Regions from separate parts of the Homo sapiens genome. Here region 1 is linked to region 2. A link means that fine-mapping ties the variant in region 2 to the expression of a gene that starts in the linked region. Tissue or cell type: whole blood. Region 2 holds a variant in brackets; the other region holds the start of a gene. All regions are shown on one strand. Distances are between the middles of the regions.

Region 1 (2,500 bases), 25 kb after region 2:
GGGCGGCTCCAGCGCGCGCGGCGGCCCGTACGCCTCGGGCGGCGGGTTGGCGTAGGGCGGGTACCAGCCCAGGCGTGGGTCTCCGCCATGGGCCTGCGCCGCCTCGGGACCGGGGTCAGGGTAGGCCTGCTCGAAGCCGGGGGTGCCCTCGCTGTACAGACTGTGCGAGTAGCGGCGGTCCAGGCCGTCGGGGGGCGGCGGCGGCGGCGGCACGTAGGGCCTCTCGGGGGCCGGGTAGAAGCCCTGAGGCGGGTACTCGGGCAGCTCTTCGCCGCCGCCGTACTCCTCGTAGCGCGCCCGGGGCTGGTAGGGGTAGATGACCCCCGCCGAGGCCACGGCCGCCGCCCCCGCGCCCACGCCGCCGCCCGCGGGCCGGTAGTACACGAAACCCTGGTCGTAGGTCCGCGACGCGGGGTCGTAGTTCTCGTACTGGCTGACGAAGGGCGCCTGCGGGTAGGGGAACTGCTGCGGGTAGGAGGGCTGCTGGCGGTAGGTGCTGGCGAAGGCCGAAGCCGAGACCGAGGAGGCGGAGCCCCCGTGCCGTTGCTGGGAGACGGAGGTGCGGGCCCGGGCCATGCCCGTGCTGTCCCCGACGGCCACCTCGCGCCAGTTGTCGGGCACCTGGCCAAAGCCGAATGGGTGCCGCGCCTGGCCGCGCACGGTGTCCGAGCCCACGCGCCCCGGCAGGGGCAGGGACGGCGCCTGCCGACGCCGGGGGCTCCCGTGGCTGCGCCGCTGCTGGGCCTGGGGCGCGCCGGCCAGCAGCACCCGGGAGCTACTCTCGGAGCGCTGAGGTCCGGCCGGCACGTACTCTGAGCCCGAGTTGAGCAAGCTGTACACCTGCCCGTTGTTCTCCCACTGGATCAGCTGCCGCCAGCGGGCGGGGTCCGAGCCCTGCCCGGGCTGCGCCTGCTGCCCGTGCACCAGCACGCACAGGCAGGCGCCCCACACCAGGGCCCCCAGCTGCCGGCTGCCTCGGGCCAGAGCCATGGTGACCCCTCTGCAGAGGCCTGGTGGACAGAGAGGCTCTCAGGAGTGGCCCCCTGGGCGTGCTTCTCTTCCCACGGCCTCGAGGACAGGAAGGCTCCTTGCTTGCCCCAGCTCTAGCTTTGTCCATGCTGGCCTTGTCCCGAGCGGGACGGCTCCTCCGATGACAGCATTTCAAGGCCAAGGGGTCAGGGCAGGGCAGGGGCGGTGCCCAGGGCTGCACGAGGCTCTCCGCAGGGCACCGGGCGGGCAGGACCGCCTGTGGGCCTTACATGGCCAGCCCCGCACTGGCTGGCCGCTCGGCTGGCGCTTTCCCACTCTGAATGAATAAGCAACAGGCTGGGAGCGTCGGGAGGCTTCGGCCTCCTGGTCCGCCTGCTGGGGCCTCCTCCGCGGGGCCCTATGGCCCGCCGGCTTTTAGCTATGCGCCGGTCCCACAGCTGCAGTGCTCCCTCAGTCCCTGGAGTTCCCAGCCAAGCCACAGACCTGCCTCTGAGGAAGGGAATCGAGCAGGGAGTAGGAGGGGACCTCTGGGGACTCGGGCCTGGTAAGTGGGGCTCTGGCAGGCAGAACGGGGCTGGGGTGTCAGCACCACCCCGCCCATTCCTCTCTGCTTTGGTCACAGCATCCCTGGTCTCCACCTTGCTCACTGGCTTCTCGTTTGGGCTGGAATGGGCCTCTGACTCCTGTCTGCCCCAGCCTCCTTCCCGTACTCCCGGGTTCTCCCTTTTCCTTGTTCCCTAAAGCCAGTGCTAATTAAGACACACCCTCTTTGCATGTTCCTTCCACCATTATCCCACACCCTCAATAGGAAGAAAAAAAAAAAAAAGACACACCCTCTTTGTTGGTGGGCCTCCTCGGGGAGATGCTGAACAGGGACCACTCTCTAATTCCAGGTCCCAGGTGCACCGCAGCTCTTGGGCCTGCGAAGAGAGGCACTGGAGCTGCACCTTTTCCCTCGTGGCACACCTCAGGGGCTTACTTTCCCAGTCTGAAGAGTGGGGTGTATCCCTGAGCTGAAAAGCACTTGTGAGATCCTGGGAGAGATCAACTTCCCAGACATCACGTATGGTTTCTGTCCTACATCTCTTGGCTCTGCATAGCCTGGGAATAACTTGAGTGTACACATGGATAAAATGAAACTGGGGGCTGTCTTTGATATGGGACAGGGGTCACTGTGAGGCAGAGAAGCCAGTAAGCATTGAACAACAGAAGGGGGTTCCGGAGACCTGGCCTGGTCCTGTTGCTGTGTGGCTTAGTCCCTTACTCTATCTGATCCAGGTGCCACGGCTTACCAATGGAAGATTAGGCCAGATGGCTCCTGAGAGTGCTTTGGGAGATTCTCTGTTCCTTCTGGGAATGGCAGGGATAGGAGGGGGTCCCAGAAGTTTGAACGCTTTGGCATCCAAGAAATCACACTCCAAATACTGCTCTTCTGGCCTCCCCTGGGCTGCCTTCTCCAACCGTGTTCCTGGGAACCGAAGGGCAGAAATTGCCCTCTTGGGCTTATAAA
Region 2 (2,836 bases):
GGGGCCTCCCTCCATCTCCCACTCACACCCTGTCGGCCTGCAGCCCCACCTCATGATCTCTGCTCAATGCTGTCTCTCTGCCAAGAATCCTCTTCTCCCCTCCCTGCCTGGAAGGAGGCTCTCTCCCATGTGAAGGCTCCCCAGAACCCCTAGGTGCTGCCTCACTGGGCAACGCGTGCTCCCCGTTCCCTGTGGTTATGCGCTCCCTGAGGGCAGAAGCTACGATGCTCCTGCGTGTGCCCTAGCACAGCACCTGGCCTTCAGGAGACTTGAGTTCGGGAGCCTGCAATTGTAAGGGAGTGGGTGGCTGGTGGAGAGTGAACGGTGTGAGAGTGAGAGGGCCAGGAGGGGGACCGGTGGGAGTGTGAGGCTGAAGGCTGAGAAGGGGCAGCAGTGGGCACACGAGCCCAGATAGGAGCAGGGGCTGAGCAGGGAGAGCAGGCTGGTGCCGCCCACCCCGCTGCAGGGCCCTCCCCTAGTCGGATGTGGTCCCATTCCCATGCGACAGGCTTGGCCAAGGGCTCAACCCCACAGGCTTCCACGATGGGCTCAGCGCCCTCATGGTCACTGTGGTCCTGACCGGGTGGTGGCTGCCCTTTCCACATTTGGCGAGGGGAAGGATGATGCCTAAGGACATCCCCCAGGCCCAAACTAGCTGTGGCTGGCCAGCCAGCCAGCAGGCCGCATGCAGAGCCACAGAGTAGAAAAACCTTGTTTTATTCAGCCCAGACCTGGGCAATCTAGCTCTGTGGTATGGCCAAAGTATAAAAAATAAAAACCAACAACAACAAAACAACACTGTAGAGAAAAGTGAAGTATAAAATGGGGTCTGGCGTCCGGAATCCCTGTGGTTTTCATCCACGTTCGCTCCCTGAGGCCGGCAGGGAGGGATGCCCCTCCGTGCCTGTGGGTTGGGGGCTGGGCCCCTCGGCGGGAGGCTGCCCGGGGAGCAGGGCCTGCTTTGGAAGGGGAGAGATTGGCCATCTGTCCCTCCCGGAGATCAGGATCTGAGGAAGGAAAGACAGTGGGTCAATGAGGGGCTGCAAAGTAGGCCCCCGTGGCCTCCTCAGCCAGGGCGTCCCTCCCACAGCCCAGATCCCTCGTGGCAGGGCAGGCATGGGCCTACATTTCCCTCAAGAGAAAGTTCCGACCCCCTCAGCCCAGCTCCAAAAGGAGGGGTTTGATGGACTCCCACCCACCCAGGGCACAGTCTCAGCACATTCCCCTCCCCATGCCCTAGTCCCAGATTGTTTTCTAGGCCATTAGCAGAGCTGCTACTGTCTGGAAATACTTTCTTGTTTTTTCTAACTCAGTACTTTTTTTTTTTTAAGCCTCCTTTTTCCTCCAGAAACACGATGGAAACCCACAGGCGTCAGTCCCGTGGCCTTTCTGGGAACGCTCTGTCCAGCTTCCTGTGCACGCTGGCCCAGCTGC[C/T]TGCCTGCGGTCAGGGTCACAGAGACTGAGACACTCTAATAAGGCCCGGCCTTTCCAAGCACTTATGTAAAGAGCTCTTGGAAGGAAGGGCTTTGGCTCCCCCTGCTGCCCACAGGCCCCCGGGGAGCTGGGAGGGCCGCGCAGGCTGCTTCTCCATCTGCCCTGCCGACAGCCCTCCTGGCTGCTCCAGGCGCCTGGCACGTGGGATGCTGTTTCTGTTCCCATCCCCCTTTCCCAGCAGCAGGAGGGATTCCCTGCCTCCCCGAGCCCCCAGCAGCCTCCTTTGTTTCCTGGATACCCCCTTCTTCCTTCCTCCTCCTTCCCTAGAATGGCTTCTACCACTTAGGTGACCCTGGGTCTTGAATGGCTAAGACAGGCCCTGAGGAGCAGGAATGTGCTGGAAACCCAGGCCTGCTAAAGAGCCAAACTGCCAGTGATGGGACAGGAGTTCGTCCTTTCAAACATGCTGTGTGCCCTGGGGAATTCTGATCTCATTCTACTCATGAGGAACCTAATCTCTGCACTGAACTGGAGGCTGCTGTTCCCATTTTTAATATTCATGATGTGGTGGCAGCATGCTGTGAACAGTTAGGTTGATGGTAGCAACCAAGTGTGAGAGGGCTGTCTCTAAATGAGCCTGGCTCTGGTCACAGACTGAGCCCTGACCCTGGCCACACACTAAGCCCTGATCCTGGTCACACACTGAGCCCTGATCCTGGTCACACACTGAGCCCTGAGCCTGGCTACACACTGGGCCCTGACTCTGGTCACAGACTGAGCCCTGACCCTGGTCACACACTGGGCCCTGACCCTAGGTATACACTGAACCCTGATCCTGGTCACACACTGAGCCTTGATCCTGGTCACACATTGAGTCCTAACCCTTGTCACACACTGAGCCCTAACCCTTGTCACAGACTGAATCCTGACCCTGGCCATACACCACACCCTGACCATAGTCATAGGCTTAATCTCTCATACCTGCCATCCATTAATAAGTACACACTTTTAGGGAAAGATACCTCTCTGGGCCTTAAGATCTCTACCACCTTTCTCCCAGTTGATGAACTAAAGCTGAAAGCTCTAGGACTAATTTTTTTTTTTTTTTTTAATGGAAAAGGGTTGCTTCGATCTGGAGTGTGGTGGGGTTTCCTTGTGAGCTTGTAAGCAAGGGGTCCCTCTGCAAACTACTTCACATGGGGAATCAGGAGAAAGACTGAGGACCCTACCCAGCAGCATGTGCCAAAATCCCAAGCCCAGATTTTAGGCACTTCTTCTACAATGGGGGCCTAGGGACTGAAGATGGCTCCTTTGAACCAGAATCACTTCTAATCTGTGACTGTTTAATCCAGTCCACTTGAAAAGGACACTAATGATCACAGCTGCTGTTCACTGTGTGCCA

Evidence for each region. PIP is the estimated chance that this variant, and not a neighbour inherited with it, causes the effect.
Region 1: it holds the start of LOXL1, and the variant in region 2 is fine-mapped to the expression of LOXL1 in whole blood (TOPMed, PIP above 0.99).

What each region holds. Positions count from the first base shown.
Region 1 is chr15:73,925,274-73,927,773 of GRCh38, reverse strand. LOXL1 (lysyl oxidase like 1) reads right to left here and starts at 1,312. Exons shown (of 7, transcript NM_005576.4): 1 at 1-1,312. The coding sequence starts at 990. All of the region lies in intron 1 of LOXL1-AS1 (LOXL1 antisense RNA 1), which reads left to right. RefSeq lists a silencer at 1-64 and an enhancer at 1-806.
Region 2 is chr15:73,950,002-73,952,837 of GRCh38, reverse strand. It overlaps LOXL1 (lysyl oxidase like 1), which reads right to left. Exons shown (of 7, transcript NM_005576.4): 7 at 702-1,007. The coding sequence ends at 1,001. Among named protein-coding and RNA genes, the nearest start is that of LOXL1-AS1, 23 kb to the right of the region's middle. RefSeq lists an enhancer at 1-307. The variant C/T (reference allele first, on the strand shown) is at 1,435.